Regions from separate parts of the Homo sapiens genome. Here region 1 is linked to region 2. The links come from fine-mapping of genetic effects on gene expression. A gene starts in region 2. The other region holds a variant in brackets. All regions are shown on one strand. Distances are between the middles of the regions. Region 1 overlaps PFDN1 (prefoldin subunit 1). Region 2 holds the start of HBEGF (heparin binding EGF like growth factor).

The links. PIP is the estimated chance that this variant, and not a neighbour inherited with it, causes the effect.
Region 1: its variant is the best candidate, but not a certain one, in a credible set for the expression of HBEGF in whole blood (INTERVAL, PIP 0.89).

Annotation. Positions count from the first base shown.
Region 1 is chr5:140,282,194-140,287,569 of GRCh38, forward strand. All of the region lies in intron 2 of PFDN1 (prefoldin subunit 1), which reads right to left. Among named protein-coding and RNA genes, the nearest start is that of PFDN1, 18 kb to the right of the region's middle. The variant C/T (reference allele first, on the strand shown) is at 2,886.
Region 2 is chr5:140,343,468-140,348,843 of GRCh38, forward strand. HBEGF (heparin binding EGF like growth factor) reads right to left here and starts at 3,136. Exons shown (of 6, transcript NM_001945.3): 1 at 2,816-3,136; 2 at 2,444-2,617. The coding sequence starts at 2,861. RefSeq lists silencers at 3,051-3,330, 3,371-3,420.

The sequences.
Region 1 (5,376 bases), 61 kb before region 2:
TTAAAAAAAAAAAAAAAAAGAAAAGAAAATCAGGCTTCAAGTAGATTCATATGTAAAAGAAAAAATAATAAAGGAATAAAAATATATCATACGCTAAGAGAAAAGTCAACATACAAACAAATACCCTATAAGTTTTGTTTTTTCAGTTATCTGTTTCAATTTTTATCTAGATATTTTTTAAACTATATTTGTAAAGTGGAGCGCCCCTCCATTTTTTTTTTTTTTTTGTAACAGCAGTAACTCATGACCTTTTAAAGTCACAATCAAGCACTGTGTTAGGATCAATGCATTAGTGTTTATATGAGTTCCTCAAACAAAAAGCACTGTATAAGCCTTAGTATCTTTTATTATTATTTCCAGAGTGTATATAGTACCTCTGAAAAGCTCAAAATGTACAAGTGGAAATTTTCAACTTTTTCCATTTTACATCAGGCACATTATTTACCACTGATGAGGGTGGAAATATGGAGAAGTTTTAAAAATTAACACTGAAACTGTTTTATGACTTTATGTTCACAATTCTTGCTTCAGGGAAAGGAAGAACAAACTTTTATAGCCCCAAGTAAGTGAACTGAAATATTTCCCCTCCACTGGAACCAAGGGAAGACCCCAGTTATGCAAATCTCTTTCAGGACTGTCTAAGGAAGCTAAAATATATTTCAATTTAATATTGCAATTAATTAAGCAAGATTTTTCTTCTCTTTGCACTAACAGAGTTCAGCAACAAAGAACTAAACATCATCTCTTAACAAAAAGTCAAACGAGAAAACACATCAAGGTAGCAACATGCAGTTTCCTCTGCCAACCCCACAAAAACATCATTGTGCCTAGGTGGGTTCTTATCAAGAGAGTCCGTTATTATAGATATAAGACAAGTAAAAACAGACCAAAAAGGGCAATTAGCTATGCCCCAACACCTGGAAGGAAACTGCCTTGTCCCCTCTTCTTCATAACTAAGCCTTACCACACATATTAATAAAATCTGAAGAACTTCTTTTACTCCACTAATTATTAAGCTTATATCCTAATGCGGCCAGCCCAGATAATTTTTTTTTTTGAGACGGAGTCTCGCTCTGTTGCCCAGGCTGGAGTGCAGTGGCATGATCTTGGCTCACTGCAAGCTCCACCTCCCGGGTTCATGCCATTCTCCTGCCTCAGCCTCCCGAGTAGCTGGGACTACAGGCGCCCACCACCACGCCTGGCTAATTTTTTCTATTTTTTAGTAGAGACAGGGTTTCACCATGTTAGCCAGGATGGTCTCGATTTCCTGACCTCGTGATCTGCCCGCCTCGGCCTCCCAAAGTGCTGGGATTACAGGCATGAGCCACCACGCCCAGCCCAGCCCAACTGATGATCTTAGTCTTCAGTAGTAACTTGATTCTTTGTAAAACCTTACTGTATATTTACAGGAAAGAGAGCCCACATTCATGCAAAACAAGGATTAATTCCAGGTCTTTTACTATAGAACCCTTCATGTCTAAAATATTCTTACTGGATCCAAGAGATGGGTGCTATTTCAGATAAGATTATGGTTTACAGAATATTTTTCTCAGAACTAACTCATATTTGTATTTGAAGAGAAGAGTTGTTTTGAACAGTACTAAGTCTCAGTAATGTTATGTAAAAACTATTCTAAAACAAGGTGCAAGAGTCACCAAATTATGTCATGACATGTGTGATTTTACTGAGAAAGTCTTTTAGCCATGGAAATAATTTTTTGAGTAAAATATACATTTTTAAGTAGCACTGATAGCTGGCCAATGAGTACTATTCTCAAATAAAAGGTCATCAGACATCATCTTTATTAGTGTCTGGGAAAATTTCAAAGCTAAGATTAGAGGTCAAGTCATTACTTATGTGGCCTTTAAAAATAAAGTATCTGAACAGATACTAAATCTCTTGAGCAGAAAATAAAATTACTAGAAAGCAAGAACACTCAACAACAAAAACACGTTTTTCCATGACCACATATCCTTTGAGGTAGCTATACTGGACTGTGCCAACTTCAAAGGCCAGAGAGATTCCACCGAAGCTGGCCAACTTACTACTACAAACCTAAGGACATCTCAGCCACGCAAGTTTTAACAAGGATGAATGTTGGGTAAATGCAAATGTCTACCTCAAAGAGTAGTTACACAGTAAAAATTCAAACACAAAAACTTATGGAAAGTTTGGTTTAGTCCTCAATTTAAAAAATGGCAAAGATATATTGTATGAAGACTGGAAAAGGCTCCAAGAAACATCTGATTTCTGAAAAAAAGTCTTTGGAAAACATCTTTCTTATTGTTTAAAAGGGCATTGGATTATCAGATACTATGTGAAGAGAAAGGATTTATCATGATAATATAAGTCTTATCATAAGCAAATATTATGTACACAGTTGCTCAATGTAGAGAATCTCATAGTCATTCTGCCTGATTGTTTATGGAAAGCCAAATAGTAAATAAAGAATTCTGGAGTTCAAAATGTACCAATAAGGAAAAATAAACCATGAAGAGGGAAAGTATTCTCTCATGACAAATAATATGCAGATAACATGCTTAAAATACTCAGGATTATATAACCTGAATTCGAGTTGATGCTTTGCAAAAGGCCTCTTCTTTGACCTGGAAATCAGTGCCACGTGCCTCTGCACTGTCCACTCTCAAGGACTTGTAACCTGCTATTTCACTTCCTCATTTATTTGTAATTATGCCATCTGAAAACATAATTCTGAGACTTTCGGTTTTGATTATTTGAGAAACATCAGACTCCGTTTTCTAAATCATCCTGCAGTTTGGTACAACTTCCACTTTCTTATAACTCAGTATGAATCAAAACCATTGTTCACCTGCCCAAAACACAATCCCAGATCACTTGCACTGCTGCATTTTGGACACAATTTC[C/T]AAAGTATGGTCACCTAGACATATGCTATTCAGAAACAACAAAATGCTTATGACGAGTTCACTTTGGGTGGGAAATTTTTAGAGGGTGTCTAAAAACGTATCCTATTAGCATTTAGGTTTCAGGGTATTCACAAATTAAGCAGCATAGAAAAGACATAAGAATGAGCCTATCTTCAGGAGAATGGCGTGAACCCGGGAGGTGGAGTTTGCAGTGAGCCGAGATCGCGCCACTGCACTCCAGCCTGGGCAACAGAGCGAGACTCCATCTCAAAAAAAAAAAAAAAAGAATGAGCCTATCTTGCTTCTTTGCCTAACTCCACTGGTGAGGAAAGTTACTGAATTTTTACGTCGTAATTTTTAGCGTGGAAGCAAGTAGAAATAAATTGAACTTCTTTTTTTAAAATTTTTTTAAATTGAATTTATTTCTTACTTTAATCACTTCCTTAGTAAGGAAGTGATTAAAACTTTATGGCACATCCACATTGTGGACTGCTCAGTGAGTTACAGACTTCTGTTATTGGCATAATGAAGAGTAGATACCCTGAACACTCCTGATTAGAAACAAAGGAAAAAAAAATTTTTTTTTAACATTTTGTTGAACTAACACAAAAGGAAGGATTCCACAAAGGTCCAAAGTGAAGTGAAACTGGGAATTCAGGAATGTAAGACAGCAGTAAATTGGCTTTCATCCTGAGAGTTTATGCTGAATCCTGGAGACCTTAAGTATCCACACTGGCACAGAAATAGGATACAAAACAGGAGATAAAACCAAGGGGGCAGCCAGGCATAATGGCATGCACCTGTAGTCCTAGCTACTCAGAAAGCTGAGGTGTGAGGATTGCTTAAATCCAAGAGTTCAAGTCCAGCCCAGGCAACATAGCAATGCCCCATGTCTAAAAAATAAATAAATTTTTTTAAAAAAGAATGACTAATTAAATAAAAAACCAAACCGAAATTTAAAAAAAAATATTTTTTTTATTGACATGTAAAGATGTCAATATAGTAAGTTAGTAAGTAAGTAAAAACTCAAGTTTAAAAAATTAGCACGTCAGCCAGGCGTGGTGGTTCACACCTGCAATCCCTGCACTTTAGGAGGCCGAGGTGGGTGGGTCACTTGAGTTCAGGAGTTAGAGACCCGCCTGGCCAACATGGTGAAACCCCATCTCTACTAAAAATACAAAAAAATTAGCCGGTGTGGTGGCGGGTGCCTGTAATCCCAGCTACTCGAGAGGCTGAGACAGGAAAATCACTTGAACCCATGAGACGGAGGTTGCAGTGAGCCAAGATCGTACCATTGCACTCCAGCCTGGGTGACAGAGTGAGACTCTGTCTCAAAAAAAAAAAAAAAAAAGAAAAGAAAAAAGAAAAATCAGCATGTCATTCCATTTTCAAGATGAAAAAATATGTAAAATAAAAAAGGATTTACACAAAGATGAAATGGGACTGGAAAAGAAAGAGAGAGCTTTTTAAAATTCATTGCTCGAAAAATGTTTCCTCTTGAATCCTCAATTTTTTTTGCGGGGGGGGGGGGGGGGGGGGGGGCGGGGGAGACAGTCTTGCTCTGTTGCCCAGGCTGGAGTACAGTGATGCCACCTCAGCTCACTGCAAACTACGCCTCCAGGGTTCAAGCAATTCTCGTGCCTCAGCCTCTGGAGTAGCTAGGATTATGGGTGCCTGCCACCACACCCAGTTAATTTTTGTATTTTAGTAGTGATAGGAGTTTACCATGTTGTCCAGGCTAGTCTCGAACTCCTGACCTCAGGGGATCCAACCGCCTCAGCCTCCCAAAGAGCTGGGATTATATATAGGAGTGAGCCACCATGCCCGGCCAAAGTTTTCTAAGTATGTAAAAAATTACCAAGTACAAAAATAAGACCTAGTCAGGTTAAATACCTTGCCCAGCTTGTATGTATTAGATTAGAACACTCGGTCTTTTTCGTACCATATTATAGTGGCTCTAATGTAAGTTATTATAAATATGTGTGTATGTGAATATATGTATACAAATAATCCAATCAACCTTGGATTAACTAGTTGGTTAAATTTGTTTCTCACAGGAGATACAGGCAAACAATTCTGAAATTGCTTTATATGTGTATGGGGATAAATAAATAAGTAAATGGACACTGGATGGTAGGAGCCGGGTTTCTCATATGAGAGAGAAGTTACAGATACGCAAGAAAGGAAGGCTAAAATGAACCCTGTGGTATCGAAGAGTCGGAGATATCAGTATAAACTCACAATCAGCTTAGTATGTGTACAGTGATGAACAGACACAGAAACAACTGTAGATATGTACATACACATGAATTAGTAGCATATATACACATATTATCTATTGCTAGTCACCAGAGGGCCTAGAAACGGTAACACCTCAGTAGTAACAAATAAACCCAGTGACCAGATATAGATTTCTAAATAACCACTCTCCAATAAAAGGAATCAGGAACCACAGCTTCTTGGAAAAATGACTAACTATAGGGCTCGGCAG
Region 2 (5,376 bases):
CTTTACAGCTCACCCACTTTCTCAAAGATTCATTCATATTTAACCCCCAATGTCCTGTTTATAGCTCTCTGGATTGGGGGGTACAGGGTGTACAAGGGATAGAAAAATGGAAAGTAAGGAACTGTCCAGAAGGAACTGGAACAATGATGACTCCCTCCTTCTTTCCATGCTTCAGAGAGACTGGGGGAAAAACAGCCTCACCCAGATATCCAGCTGGGATTGACCAGGGACTATGCCTATCAGCCCAATCCCACCCTTTTATCCCCCATCAGGAAAAAGGTGCCCACATCCATGGCTACAGCCATGTGTCTTACAGAAGGGTAAGCATGATACGTTAGACTAGAGACTTAGAGTCTCAAGCTAGAGGGACTTCAAAGAATACCATGTGGCCAGGCACGGTGGCTCACGCCTGTAATCCCAACACTTTGGGAGGCTGAGGCAGGTGGATCACCTGAGGTCGGGAGTTCGAGACCAGCCTTGCCAACATGGCAAAAATCTCATCTCTACAAAAAATACAAAAATTAGCCGGGCGTGGTGGTGTGTGCCTGTTATCGCAGCTACTCAGGAGGCTGAGGCAGGAGAATCACTTGAACCTGGGAGGCAGAGATTGCAGTGAGCTGAGATCGTGCCATTGCACTCCAGCCTGGGTGACAGAGTGAGACTATGTTTAAAAAAAAAAAAAAGAAAAAAAGAAAAAACTCATGGCAGGCAGAGTGACTTACTCAAGGTCATGCAGGATTGGGATTAGAACTGTGTTCTCTGGACTTCACTCCAATGTCCTTCCTCACCACACCAAGCTGCCTCACACACTCCCATCTCCTCCCTCTCACAAGTCTAGAGCACCTGAGATGCTGATCCAGGCATGAATGGGCTCTGAAGTCCATAGACCTGTGCTCCAATTTCAGCTATTTACTGTGGGCAGTCACTTAACTCCTCTGAACCTCAGGTTCTCAGTAAAATGTGGATAGCCAAAGTAACTATCTCAAAAGGTTGCTATAAGTGTTACATTAGCCAGGATAACATATCAAGTGCCTAGAACACAGTAGGAATTTAATAAATGGTAGCAGTCATTTATTTTAGGTGGTAGGATCCCCAGACCTGAAAAATAGTCCTTGCCCAGCAAAGCCAAAAGAAGGGAAGAGAAGTAGGTGCCAGCAGCCCCCACAGTCTTTCATTTCCTCTCATCCAGTCCCAGGCCCCCTCAGAGCTCAGAAGGTGATACAGGTGGTCAGAGGAACCCAGTGACCAGAGCTTCGGGGAGAGCAAGGCAGGGGGGCCAAGCCAATCAGAAAGGGGAGGGAGAAGGTGCAGGGTGACAGCCAGGCTCCTGCCATGGACAGGGAGCAGTGAGTCAGGTCTGCAGAGGTAAGAGGAGCAGCCGTGTGGGTGGGGGGTGGGGGTGGGGTGAGTCACAGCCCAGCCCTGCCCAGCCTAGGAGGAGAGGGCCAGGAGAATCCAGGCTGTTCAGGTCATGGGCAACCCCAGAGGGCCACTGGGAGAGGATGAAGTATGGGAGCCCAGGCTCAGTTTTGGAGTATGTGCTTGATTTATACAAAGTAGAGAGAGTATCCAAGGAAAGCTCCTGGGAATGAGGGAGAAGGGCAGCTGAGGAGCAGGTGGAACTAGAACAGGTGGGCATCTGTCCAACCAAATATAGTCATTCCAGGGTACAGTGCTGAGTCCTTGCTCTACTCTGGATAATCTCCTCAGGTTTGGAGGCAGGAGAGCTGGCAGGCTCTGGACTCTGCCCTGTACCTGTACTTGGCCACAGCCAAAGAGGCTGGTTGGAGGATCCTACACAGCCCTCCCCATTTGGAGTCTCCTCAGGAATGCAAGGTGCTCAGTAAGCTGCAGGTTTCCGGTAGCATTCACAGATATCCAGCATTTTAATACAGCCCCCTAGGGGCTCAGTGCTCACCATTCACAGCCTCATCTAGGGCGGCCAAGAGCTCCTCATTCCCCTCTGTTTCCCCAATCTGGAGACAGGTGGATGGAGGAGGCCAACACTGCACACTTTCTAGAGATGTGCCTGGGCATCTCCGCATGTGTTACCTCTATTTTATATATAATAGTCATTTGATATGGGAATTAGAACTGGCGCCCATTTTTACATAGTAGCTCTAGGGAAAGCATCTCAACCATTCCTTGTTCCTATCACCCAGCTTACCTAAGAAGAACGTAACAACCCCAGACAACACGTCTGATTCAATTTGCCCCGGAGTACCCAGAAGGGCAGCAACCCAGCAGGTGAGGCAATGACAAGAGAGAGAGAGTGGGACCTATATTCCAGGATCCCCCAGTGCCCATCAGGCCGATCAGCTTTTCCCCGAGGTTCTCCATGAATACCCTCAACCCACAGTATTGCCCAAACAGCAAGAATCTTGGATCTGCTTATTCTTCAACAGCCCACCAAGGTCCAAGGATGGGGGGCCTCCACACCCACCTCTCAAAAGGTCCAGATCTGCCTCTTGCAAGTCACGGACTTTCCGGTCCCGGCCGCCTCCTAGGGGTAGCAGCTGGTCCGTGGATACAGTGGGAGGGTCCGGGTTGCTGGTTCCAGCAGCTAGCCCTCTCCGAAGCCGCTCCAGGCTCTCGCCAGTCACCAGTGCCGAGAGAACTGCGGGCGAGAGGCCAGGCCGCATCAGACACCCGCCCAGACCCCTGACCAACACGCACCGATGCCGACGCCCGTCCGCCAGAGCGCAAGGGCCCCACCAAGTGGCCCGTGCCGGGTGCGCTGCGGCGACCTTCCCCCATGCCCCCAGCACAACGCCCCCATCCCCCCGATCTCCGGGGGCGTCGGCAGCCCTCTTACCTGCAGCCAGAAAGAGCTTCAGCACCACCGACGGCAGCAGCTTCATGGTCCCGCACCGAGAGGAGGCGGCGAGGCACCAGTCACTTTCGAAGCGGCGGCCACTGGGCGCTGGCACCAGAGCTGGGCGGCGGAGCTCAGGAGATTCCGCCGGGCACCGTCTGCCGCCCGCCTCTGCGTGCAAGCCTGGCCGGGACCCAGGCGCAGCTCGCTCTTCTTGAGTGTCTTGTCTTGCTCACTCAGCCCGCCCGCGCGGCCGCCCGACCCCGCGCGCCTAGGTCAGGCCAGCCAGCAGCGTGGCCCGCGTAGCTCCTTCGGCCGAATGAGCGCTGCCCGGCTCGCGGCCGGGAATAAGGCTCCAGGAGGCGCGGAAGCTCCGCCCCGCCCGGCGCCGCCCCCTCCCTCCTCCCGTGCTGGGAAGCTCGCCCGGCTCGCGGCGCCGGCAGCGCAGCCCCCGACCCCGCGGGCGCGGCGGAGGACTGGGCGGGAGGAGAGGGCGGCGTTCACAATTTTTGGGACCAGGCCGAGGCAGCCGCGGCCTGATTGTGGGTAGGGCTACTGACCGGCAGGTGGCGGAGAGCGGTTCCTACCTTTCCCCAAACGCCTGTCACTCTGCAGCCTTGTGACTGACTGCTGAGCTGAGTTCTGTTCCGGGCCTGGCCTCTTGCTTCATCTAAGCCCCATACCAGGGGTCTCCATCCCTGTCACCCTCTAAGTTTCAGAAGCCCACCTTTTGGCCTACCAACACGGCAAGTATCAAATAATAATTAATTCATCTATCATTTAAAAATTAGACACGTGAATGCCAGCCGTTCTCATAAACCCGAGATAACCAGAGTTGAAGTTGCAGGCACTTAGTATCAATCCAGCAAAAGCAAAGGAAGTTAGTACTCTCTTAGTCTCTGGAGTGGCTTCCTCCCATCTTCCCTCAGGGGACATTAGGATTTTTGAACTATGGGTTGTAATTCCCAGGCTTCTGAGATTGGAGAGACACAGGTTGTGAAACAAGCCTTATTCTTTTCCTTGCCTTTGACTGCCACCTTTTTCCTCAACATAAAAAATGAGCCACCCTCCCATAGGACCCAGCTGGCTAACCTAGATTGCTGTTTCACAGACACTAGGTGTTTCTCTTCCAACCCATGTGCTTTTGCAGGGGTCTTCTGGAGTCACTGTCCTGACCCAAAGAAATGAGTGTCTCAGTAGGTATTTCAGTTTCCAGGGACGTGCTGGGGAGAGAGTTGTTTGACACAGGGCTGGGTTGGCTTTCAGAGCCCTGAAATTGTGCCAGATAGAGCACTTGCCGGATTCTGCCTGTGTGTAGGGATAAAAACAGGCCTGCTATTTATACACAGTCTATCCCACTGTCCCTCCCTATCCCCACCTTTGCAGGGGTCAGTCTGGCCCTGCCCTCTTAACTTGCTCCAGTAACCTAGGCCTAGGTTTCCATAGTGCACTGGAATCACTACAGACCTGAGTTTGAATCCTGCCTTTGCTACTTACTGTGTGACCTTGGACAAGAAACTTAATTTCACTGAGCCTCAGTTTTGACGTCTCTCAAATGGAAAAAATAATAACAATAATAATAATGACTACTTTGTAGGGAGCTTTTTGAGAAATGAATGCGGGAACACATAAAAGTAGTTAGTATAGTGCCAGGCACACTATAAGCTCTCAATAAATGTGACCCATTATTATTGTTGCTGTTAATAATAATCACTAAGCACTTGACCACTCTATTTCCTTAGAGGCCTCTTTTCTCTCACTTCTCTAGATCGCTTGCCTTCCCCTAGGCCATATCTGAGGCTTTATGATATAGTTGGGCTGGTTTCAGACAGAAGCTCACCTGTCACCTATTTGGCTAAGAGCCACTGTTAGATTATCCTTTTGGGTGATGAGTATCGGGCCTAGGACCTCAGTGCATGGTCACCGCCCAAGCCATGACTTTGCCCTCCCTCAGCAGCTGCCTGGCCACCTGCTTCCCCAAAACAAAGCCACCTTGGGGTCAAGGCTCTCCCCAGGGGAGGGTGGAGAGAAACACTTCCTGACACATGGTCAAATCACCCCCTTTCCCCCACCCTCGCCAGAGTCACACCCTGCTCTCTTGCCCCAGCCTGCCTTTCTCCCTTCACATGCTCTGTCCTTCCGCCTTCTCACCCCCACATCAGCCTCAGTCCCATTCATGGGGCAACTCCAAACTTTCATCACACCTGGAGCCTCACCCCAGCTAGGTTTGTGTGTCAGCCAGGTTTTACAGGAAGGGCCTGAAAAAAGAAGATAAAAAGCTTGAATTGGATTTGGGACAGTCACTTCCCCTCTCAGAATCTTGGATGTCTCTGAGCAAAGAAAAGGAATCACAATTCATGCTGAGGCAATCTCATTAACTCAATTATATCATAAACATTAACTGAACATTTTTGGGGGGCACTGGGGACATAGAAATAAATAAGACAGCCCAGGACCTGCTTTCACAGAGCTTATATTCTATAGTAGACAGGCAGCACATTAAGGAAATAAACAAGGAAAAACATATCCTATAGTGATAACTGCTAAGATGAAAGTTAAAA